4 separate regions of the Homo sapiens genome follow, and all the other regions are reported to be linked to region 3. The links are microRNA targets in miRTarBase. Many come from high-throughput screens and were not tested one by one. Region 3 holds a microRNA gene; each other region holds the end of a gene's coding sequence.

Region 1 (4,414 bases), not on the chromosome of region 3:
CACACCAATTCAATCCGAACCTCTGGGGGTTCAGCCCAGACAGCAGAAGCTTACAAATCTCCCCAGGTGATTCCAATGCACAGCCAAAGCTGAGCCCACTGTTTTAGGCCCTCGTGCAGGTTCTTGAGCTTTTTTTTTTTTTTTTTTAACTTTTGGTAGAGACAAGGTATCACTATGTTGCCCAGGCTGGTTTAGGACTCCTGAGCTCAAGTGATCCGCCTGCCACTGCCTCCCAAGTGCTAGGATTACAGGCGTGAGCCACCATGCCTGGCCTGTTCATGTTTTAATAGGTCAGAAATAAAGTCATGAAAAGGAATTTCTCTGTGACAGTTCGCAAAGAATTCTACCAATTTAAAATAAAATAATCTAGGATAAACTCTGGCCAATTCAAAGCTAAAAGAAAAAAACATTTTTACTAGAAGTTTCTTAAAGCCTCTCAACGCACAGGGACTAGCTGAACCAGAAGGTACTTCATTTTCTAATAGATAATGTACACGAAGCTCACTCCTGGTTCAGTTCATTTTGCGTGGCTTCCAACTGAACGCAAGGGCAGCTCAGGGCCATGTAAAATCTGAGTCTACTACAGAAACCCTCGCCCCACCCCCAAAACACCTCTAAATTTCAGATAAGTTACTGCTAATCCCTACTCGGTAGGGTTGCCAGGTTTAGCAAAAACAATAAAAACAAACAAAAAACCCAAGTAGGACACGCAATTAAATTGGAATTACCTGAGCAGCTCTTTAAAAAATCCCATGCCTGGGCTACACCCACAACAATCAAACCAGAACGTCTGAGGATTCAGTCTAATCATCAGAATTTTTAAAATCTCCCCATTTCAAATATGTCCTGGCCAGGCATGGTGGCTCATGCCTGTAATCCCAGTGCTTTGGCAGGCTGAGGTGGGAGGATCACTTGAGGTCAGCAGCTCGAGTGAGGCAACACAGTGAGACCCTGTCTCTACAAAAAATAAGAAAAATTAGCTGGGCGTGGTGGTGCATGCCTGTAGTCCCAGCTACTCAGGCAGTTAAGGCGGGAGGATCGCTTGAGCCTGGGAGTTCAAGGTTGTGGTGAGCTATGATCATACCACTACACTCCAGCCTGGGCAACAGAGCAAGATCCTATCTCTAAAAATAACATCTGTCCCATGTATTAGATAGAACATATTTATTCTAAAATTATTTTCTATCTGAAATTCAAACTTAACTGGGCATCCTGTCTACTACCTCGCAGCCCCACTACTGAGGGGTAAGGGCAGAAACAAAGATCAAGCTCCTACCACCTAGGCTCTGGGACCTGCCACCAAGGGGTCTGGGATCTGCCAGGGGCTGTGGAGCTGGGACACCTGGGGCATCTGCCCCCTCAAGCTAGCTTTTGAGCCCAGAAGAATATTTTTACAAACATACACCATCTTTAAAAGCCAAGCAACAAGCCAGGTTTTACAAGAAATGTATTCTGGCTGAAGAAAGTAAGGTTGGACTTGAGGTGTGTGTGAGCTGGAATTCAGCCCCCCATTTAAAAGCCAGGCCTGCTCCAGAGGCCCCTCTGGCACTGCAGCAGGTCCCGGGGGCCTTTCAGACGCCGGCTCCCTCCGGAGCCTGTTCCCATGGCGCCCCTTAGAGGGAGGAGCCTGAAGCACGCCCCAGGCTGCCAGCTGCTTCCGCCCACCTTTCCCGTGGCAGAGATTCCTTCCCACGTTGTGACTCAGGCTGTGTAACCCAGGCCTCTGCAGCCTTCTCTGAAATTCCAATGCAGCCAAAGGGCAGATAACATTTTACAGATAAAATACTCAACCCTGGGGTAAGGCCCCCACGCACCAGTACTCCTTCTGACCTAACACCCAGGCCAAAGCTATGTCAGGATCTGTCTTGTTCCTTTCAGCCGTGGCCACTCCTTCCTATTGGCAAATTCTCAAGAGACCCTCTCCTCATGCCTTCTTCCACTGCCTCTTCGCAGAACCCTTGGGGGAGCCCAAGGAGACCCGCGTCCTAAGGGGCTGAGAAACTCCTAGAAGACCGACTGCCTAGCCTAGTCTTCCCAGTGTGGGTGGCTCCAAAGTCCTGGGTCAGACCAGTGCAACCCCATTATGTGCAGCATGAAACTAATCCCCAACAAAAGATTAAAAAGAAGCCACGAGATCCAACAAATGCAAAGGCTGATTGGAATGGAATTGAAGGTTGGTCCTGGCCACAGCCCTGCCTCTGTCAAGCAGGTGTCACACCCAAGTCCCCAGATCCCCTCTCCTCACCCTCACTGCCCTCTCTTTCTGCAACTCCCCCTCCACCGCCCTTCCCAACATGCCCAAACCTTCCTTCTCATACTATAAGATGTGCTGAAGAAAGCAAGAAACTGCAGGGGGAAGAATAAGACCACACACGTTTATATATATTTGGATTAAGAAAATGAATCACAAGCCATATAAAATTGAGATAAATTGGAAAACTCTAAGGTAAGTACCATGTCTATTCCCAGCTGCCTAGAACAAAGATCCATTAAAAATCCATGGTGTGAATTTCCACCATGGGTCAGAAGGATGGAAGACTAAGGTTTTCCTGCAACTTTCCCAACCGCCTCCCACCAGTGCAGCGAGTGCTCCCCTGGCTGAGAATCAAATACAGGTGTGTTTCTAAACGCTGGAACGAAGCAGTCTTGCTGCCACACGAGTGGAGCCCGGAGCTAGGATTCTGAAATCCAAACCCAGGCCTGCCATCACCAGGCTGCGTGGAGAATGAAGACAGGGAGCCAGGCAGACGGTTTCTCCGTGCATCCATCTTAAGATGCAGCCATGGGAAGGAAACTGACTGGGATGGGAGTTGTGTTCCTCCCCAAAACTCATTTCTTTGGTTGCCCGATGTCAACTCCTGCCTTAGACACCCATCCCAAACCCTCCTTCTCCTTCATTTTTATCCCTTCATGTTACAATGACGCAGTGAATGCTGCTTCATTGTCTTAAAACTGAAACAGAAACGGGGAGGTAGGTAGCATGGATGGGGGAGTGCACGAACTCTATAGGTACAGGATGAGGATGCCCCGCACTAGCTGCTATGAAACCTGAGTCCTCTGTTCACTCTGCACACACATCACAGAGGGCTGCTGGCCGGTGGCCAAGGCATTTGGTGAGGGCCCCATCTCATGGACCCTCCAGATGCCCCTTCATCCTCTCTGAGCTTGAACACTGGGGCTTGAAAGGTGGCCAAAGAGCTGGCGAGGACACAAATATGGGGCATTCAAACTCCTAGGAAAGATCACAATTTTGCTCCCACTCCCAAGGGGACTAGGAGTGGGGTGAAAGAGCCCATCGTACTAGAGCGAATGTGAATCCTTATCCCCAGAGGTAGAATCATTTTACCCAGTACCGGAAACACGAGCTTCCAGTTCTTGTTTTTACAGTAACTCCTGATAGCAGACCTTGCCTCCTCCCACTTCCAGTACCCTCTGCCCCTTGCAAAGGGGCCACAAAGTGCATGCACGGCTAACCGTGTGGATGCTGCCCACAGCCACGGCCACTCACCCCTCGCTCGTGTGCACAGCCTCCCCACATATACACGGGTACACGTAACGCATGGTGGCCAGAGAGACATTTACAGTGTGAGTGTGAGGCCCGGCTTAGGCCTGCATCCTTGGGCAGGGTCTGCCCTTGGTCCCAGGGTCCTAAGGCTGCTCTGCAGCCAGCCCCGTGCCTTAGTGTTTGATCTCGAGGATGGAGGGATTGTGGTCCAGGATGGCGAGGATAATCTTGTCCATGTACTGCCTCAGCCGGAAGTTGATCTCCTCCTGCTCCTTCAGGGCTTCCATTAGCTGAAGGAAATGGGAAAGACGGGTCAGTGGCTGGGCCTGGGATAGGGTGCAGGCAGAGTCCAGACTCCCAGGCTTGTCGCAGGCCAGTGCCTGACAATAGAGGGCATCAGGAGATCCTGGGCAAGGTGGGCCCCAGGACAGCCTCAGCATTTGGATGCCAGGACCAGAGTCGAAGTGGCTCAGCCCCTAGTATTACCTATGCAGGTGCCCAGGCCCCACCCCCAGAGATTCCAATGTGATCAGTTTGTAGAGGGGGCCCAGGTGTGGGTAATTTTTTGCAAAAGTAGAAAACACTAGCCAAAGTCATTTAAAATCAAGACTGACAAAGTCCCAGGGCCGCTAAGACTCCAAAGGGGAGCTGTCTCCTGCCTGGAACACCTCTCCCCACCCCCAGCCCCACACTGCTCTTCTCCAGGGCAGTGTTCTTTCGGACATTGCTGACATGCTGCCTCTGCCCAGGGGTTGGGGCCCAGCTCACCTGGGAGCTCCTTGAGGACAGAGGTCAGCTCTTCACCCCGTGTCCCAGGCAGAGGGTGAGGCTCAGTGACAGAGTGTCTTGTAATTCATGTTACAATGCAGCCGGGGCATTTTGGAGGCCTGATCTTTCATAAGCATACTC
Region 2 (4,000 bases), not on the chromosome of region 3:
ATGATTGCCCCATTCACCCCACACACACTTCTTACCTCAGTGTCCCCTCCCACATGTCCCCTCCCAGCTCTGGGACCCCTGCCATGTGACCCCAGCTCCACACCCTTCCCTCCCTGCATCAGTCCCTGCAGCTCCAGGAGGCCCCTGCCAGCCTCCTCATCCTCACTGCCTTCCTGCCCCGCTGCAGGCTGGCTTTGGTTATGGGCTCCCCATTTCCCGCCTCTACGCCAAGTACTTCCAGGGAGACCTGCAGCTCTTCTCCATGGAAGGCTTTGGGACCGATGCTGTCATCTATCTCAAGGTGAGGGCCCTTCCCGCAGAGCCCAGCTGGAGAAGAGCTTTGCTGATAGGACCTGGGCAGCCTTGGCCAGCTGCGAGCTTTCCTTTCCATCCCCCCAGTCCTTCCCTGGCCCCAGACTCTGAGAATCCAAGCAAAGCTACAGTTCCTCAACCTGAAGAACCCTCAACCCCCAGACACGCACTGCTTGTCAGGGAATTTAGGGGAGTCTGTGGTCTATGATTAAGACCCCTGTGCTGGGAACCCTTGACTTGTTAGACCCAGAAGGAAGGGGACACCCTAGGTCTTGCCATTCAGTTCAGAGGAGAAGACTGAGGCCCGGAGTCCGTGACTTGCTCAGGGTCACACAGCCCAGCCTCCTCCCCCTCCCTCTCCCTCCCTTAGAGGGAGCTGCTTGCTTGAATGGGCAGGAGCGGGACACAGGAGGGACCACCCTTTTGTGGTCTTTCCAGGCCCCCGTGTCTGGCAGCTGGGCTGCCGCTGAGCTGGGGTGGGGTGGTCTGCTGAGGAGTGGACAAGGCACAGGGAGGTGGGAGGGGCTGACCCTGACACTCCCCAGGCCCTGTCCACGGACTCGGTGGAGCGCCTGCCTGTCTACAACAAGTCAGCCTGGCGCCACTACCAGACCATCCAGGAGGCCGGCGACTGGTGTGTGCCCAGCACGGAGCCCAAGAACACGTCCACGTACCGCGTCAGCTAAGGGCCGCCGTGCATCTGCACCTGAGAGGACGGACTGCCGCCTCTGGGTCCCCCCACCGTGGTGCCCCTCACCATCCTCCTGGGGGAGCAGGGGGTGGGTTCTCCCTGATGACCAGGTTCTGTCTCTATGGAAGTCACTGCGGTGATAGGTCTGTGATGGTCCCTAAGTGCCAGTCCATCTCTGTGGAGACCCCTCGGTGGCCTCCCTATCTCTGTGGGCGATGCCTGAGGGTTAGGGATGTCTCCACCCTGATGGGGTGTCCCAGAGACATTTTCCCATGGCAGTCCTCCTCTCTGAGACCAGGGCTGTCACTTTTCTGCCAGGGGTACTGGGTCCCCCTCAGCACCCTCCACAGCACAGGCCTTCCAAGTGGATGTCCCGTTGCCTTATTCCCCCAGCCCACAAAGGCACCCTGGCCTTGGCCTGCTGAAGTGTTAGGAAGAGGGTGGGTGCCCTCCAGACCTGGGGACTGAGTGGGGAAAGGAGTTACACCCGTGAGTGGGGAATGAGGCTGGTCCTGCAGCCTCTCCCTCCGCTCAGGGCTTGAAGGTCGGTGGCGGAGGGGGTGGCTCTCACAGGGCCCAACTCTAAAGTGGAAGAACCTTGTTAGACCGAGAGCTTGCCATCCAGCCAAGCTGCTCGAGGCCCTGCAGTGGCCTTGGCAATGTCTGTGCCACCTCCTGAGCCCTCCCAGCATGTCCTCACATGCTCATGCCCACCCGCTCCTCCACAAGCCTAGTCCATCCTGCCTGAGCTCCAGCCCCCAGCCCCCACTGTGCCCAGACATGTGTGCTCAGGGTGGCTTTCTCCCTAGGACCTTCTGTGTATATAGTTAGTTTTATAACCCTGAATGCCCCCACCCTTCCCCTAAGCACACAGGGGTTAAAGCTGTGTGTCCCTCCCAGTGGCTGTGGCAGTGACAGTGACACCCACACCCACAGTAAAGAGGAGACTGAATGAGACTGGCCTGGCTGCATCCCTGGGGGAGGGGACCCACACGTGCGCACGTACACACGCACACTGCGGTGCCCTGTGACCACCACATGACGCACCGGGGACGTCCGGCCCAGCTCAGGACTGTGAGTAAAACACTGGGCAAAGCCATCTGTTCAGAACGCCGGATGGCCCAGCACCTGGTGACAGACCTGTTGTCCCACCATACTCAGGGCCCAGCAGAGTCCGGCCAACCCAACAACTGGAGCAGACAGAAATTCTGGTCACTGGCACATCATAAGGATTTATTGAAATAAATTGAGAACTGCCTCCCCTTCACATGCAGGTGGGCACCCACTATAGCTACTGATGGCTTTAAGGATGTGGGTGCCTTCCAACCTCCCATGGCCCTGCCACCAGGCCCAGATGGTGCCAGTGTCCTCATATCTGTTTCCCTCCGAAGCCCCTCTCCCAGCACAGATAGCAGAGGGGGGATAAGGGCTGAGTCCCAGGTACAGGGTGCTGGCCGTAAGCCACAGCCCCTGGGCAGGAATGAGGGAGCCAGCATGCATTGGTGCCATCTGCCGCTCTGTCTGGGCAGATGGGAGGAGCTGGAGGGGTTTCCAAGCGGGAGCCCCCAGGCCTCATCGGTAACTCTGACCAGTGTCCTGGAAGCGGGACTAGCTGCTGACCAGCGCCACACATGAACACTTCCTCCAAGGACATTTCCTAAAAAGGACACATGCTGTCCCCAGGCTGCTGGTAAACTCCACCCCCATCCAGGGAGCTGGCCCCAGCCCTCAGTGTGGCCCAGGGAAGCAGAGCTTGCACCGCCTGCCAGTTCTGAGCCCACTGATTCCCTGACAATGCCTGGGGCAGATGGGGGAGGGCTGATGAACCTTTCCAATCTCGTAGCTGCCGGGGACCCCCAGGTTTTGCCTCTCTGCCTGGCTGGGGTGAGGGCTGACCAGGTCAGCAGCTCCTAGGCCTTGGCTGGTGGAAGTGGTGTCCTCTGTCCCTATCAGTTCCTGTTTGCTCAGCTCCCAAAGAGGACTTAGGTGCCCTCTGAGGAAGCAGCAGGAAGTGAAGGGAGTCCTGGCTTGGAGAATGGGTCAAAGACCAGGTCTTGAATGGGCCCTGAGAGGCAGACCTGTGTGGTGTCATCTCGCCCCCTGGGACCCACAGGACAGAGGAGGGGAGAGGGAGAAGGGGATGTTCATCCTCCCCTCTTGAGTCCTGGCAAAGACTGCACTCGCCCCAGGCTGCTTTCTCTGCGCTCCTGTTGAGGAGTTTGGCTGGGAGTCTACCCTGAGTGCGACTTGCTGCAGCGCCCACTGGCCTCTTGGGGGAGCAGGACAGAGCTCTCCCACCACACAGCCCCCTGGAAGAGTGGAGAGGAGCCGCTCCCACATGGGCTCCTGCTGAAATGCCCAGCCCAGCTCTGAGCCCTGGGGCCCGGCCTCAGGGCCTCTGGCAGGCAAGCAGGCAGGCAGGCCTCCTAGCTCCCCTCCACCCCAGCCCCACGATGGCCTGAGGGCAATGGGACAGCCTGACCCAGCCTCCCAGACTTGCCTCAGCCCTGGCCTCTCTGCCCTCTCCCCTTCATCTGCTCCTCCCCCAGGAACTCTGTGCCAAACAAGTCCTCAAAATAGGATTTATTACTAGGCCCTCTCCCTGGGGTCTCCCTTTCTGGGGTCTCTGGGTCTAGACCAAGTGACAGGGTAAGAGAGAGCATGTCCCCCCTGAGAGCGTGGGACCAGGCTAGCCCAAGTGCAGCGCCCAGGTCCAGCCTCCCTGGTGAGGCCTGTGCCCGCGGAGCCAGTGGCTGCCCCTGCCGGGTGCCAGCGCCTGTGCACCCTCCCCTAGCTCTTCTTGGCCTCCTGCTCTCGGCGCCGGAGCTTCTCCCGCTGCCGCGCAGCCTTCTCCTGGGCCTTGCGCTCCTTCTCGGCAGCTGCTGCCATCTCCTTCAACTTGCGCTTCACCAGTGCCCGGTCATGAGAGTTGCTGAGCCCCAGGCTCTGGGGAGGAGTCCGGGGTGAGGGAGAGAGTCCCAGAACCTTCCCAGTCCT
Region 3 (4,414 bases):
TATTCTGGGCTGTGTATTTCAAGACCCTGGGGGAAATAACAAAGATACGGGGATATGGCCTGTATCCTCCCTTCAAAAACCTAATACTTACAACAGAGTCCCTCTCCCTTTCATACCTGCTCTCTAAACCCCCAACATACACCTTCTTTTTCCTGCGGCTCTCTTGAGCAGATCTTTTATTTCGAATCTTCCTCCGCACACGTTTCAGAATTTGTTCCTCTGTCTGAAAGGAAACAGGGAAAGGGATATCATTAGAGGAACTCTAGAAAAAGGAGTTGAAACGCAACTGAGATCAATCTCTTTCCAATACAGAAATCCCTTCTACAGCTTCCCTGACCAACAGGCATTCAGATTCTTTCTGAATGCCTCCACGGACCAGGTGTTAACCCTAACAAGCCAGACCATTTTAAACTATTAAAAAAAAAACTGGTCGGGCAGTATTCAGGCGACGTGGCTCATGCCTGTAATCCCAACACTTTGGGGAGCTAAGACAGGAGGACCGGTTGAGCCCAGGAGTTTGAGACCAGCCTGAGCAACATAGTGAGACCTTGTCTCTACTAAAAATAAAAAATTAGCCGGGTGTGGTGGCACATGCCTGTGGTCCCTGCTACTCAGGAGACTGAGGAAGGAGGATCACTTGAGCCTGAGAGGTTGAAGCTGTAGTGAGCCATGATCTCGCCACTATTCTCCAACCTGGGCAATAAAGCAAGAACCTGTCTTCAAACAAGCAAATAAAAACTTCCTTATCCTGAACCAACAGCTGCCTCCTTATAATTTCTATCCGTTGGACTTACCTAGTATCTCTGGGGCCAAATAGAATAAACCCTGTTTAGCTATTTTAAGGCACTTAACATTTCCTCAGAGCTTAAAGAAAAAAAAAAAGACAAAATTTTTAACTCATCTTCTCAGGATAGACTGCATCCTCTTAGTATCTGTCAAAGATGTGCTCTAGCCAGTATCAAGGAAAGCAAGAGAGTGACTTGTAGAGACAATAACTCTATTGCTACAGTTTCCAAATCCCATGAACTTTCTTAGTAGCCACATCACACTGCTGACTCATCTTGTACTTTGAAGAAATTAAAATTCTTCACTTTGGGAGGCCAAGGTGGGTAGATCACTTGAGCCCAGGAGTTCGAGACCAGCCTGGCAACAAGGCAAAACCCCATTTCTACTAAAAATACCAAAAAAAAAATTGCCGGGCAGGGTAGTGTGCACCTGTAGTCTCAGCTACTCGGGAGGCTGAGGTGGGAGAATCACCTAAGCCCAGAAAGTCAAGGCTGCAGTGAGCCATGATCACATCAGTGCACTCCAGCCTGGGCAACAGAGCAAGACCTTGTCAAAAAATATATATATATTCCTGTAACCTTTCTATTAATGAGCACTGATTTCATCATAGTACCCCAGTACTCTGCTTGTGAAGTTGCCACTCATTGCTTAAAACTGAAAACTAAGGATTTTACATTTATTCATGTACTGCTTAGTCCAACCCTGTTGAACTCTCTAAACAGTTCTACCATTCAGCAAGAGGTGGATTACTATGAAGCCAACGAAGTGTCAAGGCCCTTCACTTACACAGTCCTTTCCAAGGCCCAATACTAATGTTGCACTGATAATTTTGAGTTATTTTTTTAACAGAACACCAAAATTTGTATAAGCCCAACAAAAACGAGGATCTGCCCTTGCATCTGGCATATTGTGTACCTGCCTCAACTTCCTATTAGCAATAAATCTACTAAGTTTCTCACCTCAATCCTTTTTTAAAGTTATTGATATAAAGTTAACAGAATTTGCCTACTTGGGACTTTTAATCCCTTTTCAGCCTTTGTTCAACCAATGAGAGTCTTACCTTAGTGAGAGGAAGTGTCTCAGGCAGAATAAGCCCCTCCTTCTCCAATAGACTCTTCTCCTCATCTGTCAGTACTAGCCTAGCAATCTCCTAGGGTAACAAGAAAGTGGACGGCAGTTGCATGGGGATGTCAGAGAGGAATGGGGAATCCTGCCCCCACCTGGGGAATGTGAGAGTAATCTCCTGAAAATCAAGTCAAGTACCTGCTCTGCCAGCTCCTCCATATGCTGTGGAGTCATCTGGGTCCCCTCTTTTCTACAGCTCTCACTCTCTGCAAAAGGGAAAGTATGAATAGCCAGGCCCATGAACCCTGTCCTCCCCGCAAACTTATTTCAGACTCACCTAGATCCATAGAGACAGTTTCCCGTGGGAGGGAGTAGGTGTGGTCATGGTGGACAAGGCAGGGGTTGGAGGAGCTGAGAATGTTCAACGACGCTGGGGGACTCAGCAGGGAGCACAGCAAATCATCTACTTCCCAGTCGCTCGGTACCTGCGCAGGGTTCCAATGAACAGGCCTTGACCTTATCACCATCACCTGACTTCATGGACATCCCACGCTTTCCCCAGTCAGAACCCCAACCTACCTCAGAAAGCGGCAGCGCCCAGTCCAGTGGGGCCCTCACGGCCTCATCGGGTGCCGTCCCCAAATCTCCACTTTCCTCTAGCAGGAAGGCCAGCAGGTCTTGGTCACCAGCATCCAATTCCAGCTCCATTTGGGACAACTACGGAAAGGGTGGGCCACCGGGCCCCAACGTCCGAAGCCCAGACACGAGCCCCAGGCCAGCTGTAGGCCTCGGGCACCTATCCACTGTCCCTCTACGGCCGGGATTCCCCGCCGGCGGCTTTCCATAGCCCTCTCCGGACCCGCCTCCCAGGCTCAATTCTCCTCAGCCTCCAACGCAGCGAAAGTGACGCACCCCACCCCGTGGCACTGTGGGACTTGGAGTTCCCTCCAACTGAGAAGAGGCTTGGGTGCAGCGCCACGTCCCAGGGGCTATGCAAATGTAGGGGACGGCCCTGCTGCCGCCTCGCACCCCGAGGGCGGGGGTTCCGGGGCTCCGGCTCCGCCTTCTACCCCAAGCTAGAAAAAGGAAGAGTTCTAGCCTGAAAGGGAACTCGGGCGTCGTCCTGGCGTCCTCTCCGGATTGCGCCGCACCCTCGCTTCCTGCCAGGGAGGGGCTGCCGGGCTTTGGCGGCTCCCGAGCATCGAGAACGGGGCCAGAGCAGCTTCCTGCCTGCCCCCCGCGACCATAGAGCGCGGGCCCAGGGCGCCGCCCGCGGGTGGGGGACGTTCCCAGGACGGAAGTGGCCGAGAGAGTGTCGAAGGGAGGGCGAGGCCGGAGCCCGAGGGCGACCCGAGAAGCGGCGGGGCGGCGGGCCGGCGGGCGGGGCGCAGAGCCAGGCAGCGCAGGTAGGCCAGACCGGGCCGGGCGGGGGCCTTAGGGTGGGGCCGCGGGGCCTGGCCCCGGGGCGGGCGGGCCCTGCCTCTCTTGCGTGTCCGGTTCGGGTCCTATTAGTTGGAGAGGTCAGCGTCCAGCGCATCTCGGCTTGAGCTCGGCGTGAAGTAGGCCGTCTTGGGGAAGACAGGCCTTTCCTGGGAGCAGTCCTATGTCTGGGATAGGCTTTGGGGAGCGTGAGGAGTCGGGTGGCAGCGGGGCGCAGGGCGGGGACGGGCTTTGGTGTTAGCTGATAGCGGGCATGTGGGTAGGAAAGCTTTGGGTGAGTTGGGGATTAGGTGGGGTCCGTTTAGGAATCAAGGGTCGCTATAGGAGTTAAAAGCTGGGGTTAAAACTTAAGAGTTAGTGTGAGTCAGGTCCGTTTTAGATAGGTAAGGTTTAGATTACGGTCATTATCTTGTTTGCTGGGATGGCCATCATACGTCATAATTTGAGTTCAGGGTCAGGTTAAGGGTCAACAAACAACAGGAATCAGGTTAGAGCTTGTTTGAGGGATTAAAGAATGTTGGCATGGTCGGTGTTAAGGATAAACAGTGAAAGCGTGAGTTAGGAATCAAATTATAAATGAACTTTAGGCTTAGGGGTCAACATTTAGGGTTAACATCAGGGGATTTGGTGCTAAAGGCAAAACTTAGATCAGTTTCAGGGATCAGGGATTGGATATGAGTCTGTGCTAGGAAAGGGATGAATGTCCAAGCCGGTACTGGGAATCAGGAAACAAATTAGAGGTGGGGTTAATGTTAGGAATTTGGGGCAGCTTTAGGGGTTGTGGTTTGAGGCTAGCATAGTTGACCTTGAGCAGATAAAATTTAAGAGGTTGGCAGTAGGTAAATGCCCTTCTTTTGTAGGGAAATCCTTTATTCCTATGTAGTTACAGGGGCTTCTTTTTACCCAGAGAGATAAACTAATTTCAGGCTAGCGTTCTGGCTTTAGCTAGAATTGCAGGCATCTGGGATTCCAGCTTCTTTATTCCATTCTCTAAGCCCAAGGCCCTTGCTGTGGCCACCACAGTTAGGGGACAGAGATTCTGGACTGTGTTGTTTACAGACAACATAGGTGGGAAATAGGGACCCAGGATGTACAAGGCCTAGTCACAAGTTGGGGACTGCCT
Region 4 (4,414 bases), not on the chromosome of region 3:
CATTAGAAAAACTAGACACTATGTATTCTCTAAAATTTATTTACAGTTAATAAGTTAAAAAGCAAAGTACAAGCAGATTATAAATCTCAACCATAAGCACATCAAACTGTCCAGGGAAACACTTTGATTCCATTACAAACAATTGTTTTCTAATGCGCTTAAGACATAACACTCTATCAAAAAATATTTTAAACACACCAATAAATATTAGGCATGTATGTCCATTAAAAACCATTAAAGAGTCCTGTGGCAATCCTTAAAACAATGAAAAACTTTTGAGTTCAAAATTGCTCAGATATTTTGTATTCAAATATTTTTAAAATTTACTTAAGAGTTTTCTAAAAAATAGTACTATCATTTGCACACAGCAGATCAATAGGTGTCAGTCACCAGCTTAAGTTACACTTGTCAATATTCAAACTTGAATAAAATAAACACACATCACAACAGCGACACTTTGCACTATCAACAATGAAGCTTGCCCTCAACAATTATGACGTTACTGGTTTTAGTAACATAAAAATACATTGCTGGTTGACAGGAAGGATAAAAATGACATCAAGAATCTCAAAAAGTTATGTGAGGTGCCGGTCACCACATTTAGGCACTCAGGAATTAAAAATCAAATAAAAGCATAGCGAGGTGATGAATTTCCTCCTGGCTTCCCCCTCTACTTGTGCCATATGAGATAAAAGAGAAGGCAAGAGAATGAACGAAGATCATGAGATTTCTTTCAAAAACTATACACAAGCTAAGCTACAGACTTCACTTCAGAGGAGTAAGTGGATGCCTCATTATAAAGGCCACTATGCCAAGTTTCTTTTCACATTCTGTGACAAAGTACCCATGAAATACTTTCACTTTCCTATTAGTATACCAGTCAACTATATTAGATGTTGCTTCACATTTTAAAAGTTGTCACATAGGTTTTTACCAAAGGGCAAAAATAAAGATTTTTTACATCTTATTTCACAGACTAGAAATGGCATAATTTTTGAATAGTCCAGATGAATACCATATTGAATTCAAGATGGACAATCAGATCCAAAATGGAATCAGATAGCCCATGTAATCCAAAGAAGCATTTATGTGAGTTCAAGTATGCTAAAGTAACAAGGCATAGGAGAGAAAAATGTCAAGAATCTCAGTTAAAATAAATGAATGGTGTCAGTGGTTATGTTTCAGTGGTGTGCTGAGCAGTTATCCTCCCAGTTAAGCCAAATTTCAAAATCCTCTGGAAAACTATCTAGATAAGCTGTATGTCGAAATTGCATTCTAATATGGCCATTGGGTTTATTTTTCATTATTATAAAACTATATACAATAGTAAAGTTGTACAAATACATTTTTTCCAGGTGCTAGTTAGCTATAAAAGTTAACAATATATTTTTGGGAAGAAAACCCTATGCATCTGAAATACAATTGGCAATGGAAGCTAATAACCAAAAGATATGTCTAAGCTTCCTATCACAAATATAATTTAACACTCTCCATCTTCTAAGGAATTATTCATTTTTATTTACTCATGTGACAGTGTTTGTACAATGCATTATCATTGAGTAGTGAATAAAAGACTGAGGCTTACTAGAAAACTGGCATCAAGTTATATATATGTGTGTATATATATATCATATTATTTCTTTTAACAAGAACACTGAAATTGAAGTCACAACACTCCTATACGGACTACTAAACTTGAAATACTCATTTCAGAAAGCTATGCCATTTGAATTCTAGGAACGCAAGAGTCAAAATTGTAACTCTCATTATTCTCCTAAAAAGCTGCCAAGCAGAGATAAGCTTTAGTATTAAAGATTTCACATGTCAAGTTCCAGCCCAGTATGGATCGTTTCATGGCAGAATACTTAAATTTGAAATAATAGTGGTACAAAAACACTACTTGACCCTTTAGGTATTGCAGTAAAAGCTGGCTGTGGCACTGCTGGCTAAAAACTATTAAGTTTTCCTGCCACAAATGACCAAAGGCACTTGGATAATCAAGAATTCCACACTGGGCCATATGGTATAAACACTATAAAAGCGTAAAGAAGGGTCAGTATTCTGTGTGTCTCGCCTGTTTGATTCCTGTGGTCTTCAGCTGTCAAAGACCTAGAACTGCAAACATATAATGAGTGGCAAAAAGGTTAAAAAAAATGTTGGGACAAAAAAATCAACTAAAAATCAACTAATTTTCATTATGTTTGTAAAACTGATGAATATTAGTCTAGACATTTCTTGTTATCCAACAACAAAAACAAAAAGGAAATAGATTTCGCCCAAAGTAACCTTAACCAGTTATTTGATACCAAGAAATGCCTCCACCCCTCTTGATCATTAATAGTTCTAAGAATTCTAATGGGTATTCTGTTTATCATTTTAGTGATAATGTTTACACACATCCATCTCTCCTATGCAACTCCCATTTTAAAATACATTATCCTTGTAAAATACATTACAAGGATAATGTATTTTAAAATACTTTAACGCATAATATTCCTAGATTTGTATGTTAGACCAGGACAGGGGGCCAAATCATCTCCAGTCGGATTCCAGTGACTCCTGTAACCAAAACCAGTTCTTCACAATTTATTCATTTTTTTTAATCACACACCATATGGTTTCAATGCATTTTTTTATTCAATTCAAAAGAATTTAACAAGTTAACTTTTCCTAAACAAAAGTTTTCATGTGTATTCTACCATTTTTAGGAGCTCAGTAAATATAAACATTGTTTCAATACAAAACCTTTAAAAATACCTTGAAAATGTTTAAACAGTTGTATTTTGCATGTCTTTGTTTGTAATCACTGAGCCCATACAAATCCTTGCACTACTAACAGTCACAAGCTTGAACCTCTTAAAAAATATCCTCGATCAAAGCTTTGGAATCCAGTAAAAATTAGGAAACGAGTGGGCTTCAGAATACCCTGAGCACAAACTAGTGCAACACCACATGTTCGAACTTCTGTCCACAAAGAGGGGTGACAGTGAAATAGAAAAAGGGGGAGATAAAGAACAAGTAAATTCTGGCTTTATTACACAAGCACGAAACCAAATTCCTTTGGAAAAATAATGTCTTCGGAGGACTTCCAGACCAGTGAGGTAGAGTCCAACAGTGAGAAAACGGATCTGCCCCTAAGGTCCTGGAGACGTCTCAATCGGTGGTCAGGAAGAAAGGGACCTCCCCTGCGGGTCCAGCTGTCCCCTCCCTCCGCAGGCCGGGTACGGGAGGCAGCAGAGGGCACACCTGCCCCAGCGTCCAAGACGACCGCGCCGCGGCCCGGGACAGGGACAACCATCCGGCAACTTCTTCGCGCGTAAAGTGCATTGGGGGCCGGGGTCCTGGCCGGATCTGTAAACACTCGACTGACACTTGTTCATTCCTCCGGGCGGAAGGCCTGTCCCAAGGTCGGGGCCGGCAGGAGGCGCCCTGGAGGCCGCACCTCATGCCCGGGGCACCGGGAAGCGGCGGAGCCTCACCATGGGTTCCAGGTTCACTCGCAGGACCTGGCGCGCCCTGCGCCGCGCTGCCGCCAGGCTGCGCTCGCCCCACACGTCGCTGCCGACGCGGATGGTGGGGAAGGTGGTCAGCGTCGGGGTGGCCGCCCTCCAGATCTCCTCCAAGGTGCGGCCCCCGAAGCAGGGCCCGGGGGCCACGGGCTTGGCCGGGCAGCTCTCCTCGGGGGGCGGCGGCGGTGGGGGTGGCGGCCGGGGCTTCCTCCTGCGGGCAGCGGCCGCCCGGGCTCCGCGGCGCCTCCTCCTGGCCGCTGCGCGCGGAACCGGCCGGCGCGCCTGGCCGCGGGCTGTAGGGGGCCCCGGGGGGTCGGGTACCAGGGCCCGGCAGGAGGAGTAGCCGTAGACGTCCTTGCTGCGCAGGATGTGCGGGGAGAACTGGTGCTTGAGGCTGCAGAGGAAGCTCCAGAGCTCCGCGTCCGAGCTCATGAACTCCGTGCTGCGGGGCATGAAGAGCTTGAAGGCGTCGCCCAGCGCCTTGGTGCTGTCAGCCAGCGACAGTTGCGACCGCGAGTACACCACCTTCTCCTCCCGCGCCTCCAACCCAGCCCCGTCTTCTGCCCTAAAGTCGCCGCCCCGGGCGGCCGTGGCCGGGGCGACCGGGCGCCGGCGCCGCCGCCTCTTCATACTGCGCCGCATCGAAGGCCGCTCCGGGCCACTCACGCTCGCCGGGTCCCACTACTGCCGCCGCCGTCCCAGTCCGCGTTGGCTCCGCGGCGGCGGCTGCTGCTGGCGTCTCTCGCTACTTTTCTCGCCTCCGCCGCCGCCCCTCCCCCTCCGAGGGCGGAGGACGCGGGCGAATATCCTGCTGCCCGGTACAAGATGGCGGCCGGCGCCCACCCCTGGGCTTTGTCATTGGACGGCGCCTCGCCCCCCTGGTTTCTCTTTCTTCTCCTCTCTTG

The links. Region 3 holds the annotated microRNA hsa-miR-6853-3p (UGUUCAUUGGAACCCUGCGCAG, at 2,337-2,358, opposite strand). A microRNA usually pairs through its seed, bases 2 to 8, with sites in the 3' UTR of a target mRNA and lowers its output. Matches are read on the target gene's strand: a 7mer-m8 pairs with bases 2 to 8, a 7mer-A1 pairs with bases 2 to 7 and ends in A, and an 8mer does both.
Region 1: miRTarBase lists RAB11FIP4 as a target of hsa-miR-6853-3p. Seed matches in the 3' UTR shown: 7mer-m8 at 516-522 and 7mer-A1 at 274-280.
Region 2: the mRNA of SAMD14 is a reported target of hsa-miR-6853-3p. Seed matches in the 3' UTR shown: 7mer-A1 at 3,145-3,151.
Region 4: the mRNA of CCDC71L is a reported target of hsa-miR-6853-3p. Seed matches in the 3' UTR shown: 8mer at 3,374-3,381.

The regions. Positions count from the first base shown.
Region 1 is chr17:31,530,997-31,535,410 of GRCh38, reverse strand. RAB11FIP4 (RAB11 family interacting protein 4) reads right to left here. Exons shown (of 15, transcript NM_032932.6): 15 at 1-3,795. The coding sequence ends at 3,679. It overlaps MIR4724 (microRNA 4724), which reads right to left and starts at 528; the gene lies at 440-528.
Region 2 is chr17:50,109,100-50,113,099 of GRCh38, forward strand. SAMD14 (sterile alpha motif domain containing 14) reads right to left here. Exons shown (of 10, transcript NM_001257359.2): 10 at 941-3,949. The coding sequence ends at 3,794. PDK2 (pyruvate dehydrogenase kinase 2) reads left to right here. Exons shown (of 11, transcript NM_002611.5): 10 at 188-301; 11 at 858-3,053. The coding sequence ends at 998. Among named protein-coding and RNA genes, the nearest start is that of PDK2-AS1, 8.7 kb to the left of the region's middle. RefSeq lists enhancers at 2,698-3,383, 3,384-4,000.
Region 3 is chr9:35,730,918-35,735,331 of GRCh38, reverse strand. It overlaps MIR6853 (microRNA 6853), which reads right to left and starts at 2,410; the gene lies at 2,337-2,410. TLN1 (talin 1) reads left to right here and starts at 3,137. Exons shown (of 57, transcript NM_006289.4): 1 at 3,137-3,257. It overlaps CREB3 (cAMP responsive element binding protein 3), which reads right to left and starts at 2,666. Exons shown (of 9, transcript NM_006368.5): 1 at 2,431-2,666; 2 at 2,189-2,336; 3 at 2,050-2,117; 4 at 1,847-1,936; 5 at 117-223; 6 at 1-26. The coding sequence starts at 2,559. RefSeq lists enhancers at 2,541-2,630, 2,681-2,730, 3,531-3,580 and silencers at 2,861-3,020, 3,061-3,350.
Region 4 is chr7:106,656,746-106,661,159 of GRCh38, forward strand. It overlaps CCDC71L (coiled-coil domain containing 71 like), which reads right to left and starts at 4,413. Exons shown (of 1, transcript NM_175884.6): 1 at 1-4,413. The coding sequence starts at 4,151. The coding sequence ends at 3,444. RefSeq lists an enhancer at 3,187-3,236 and a silencer at 3,587-3,856.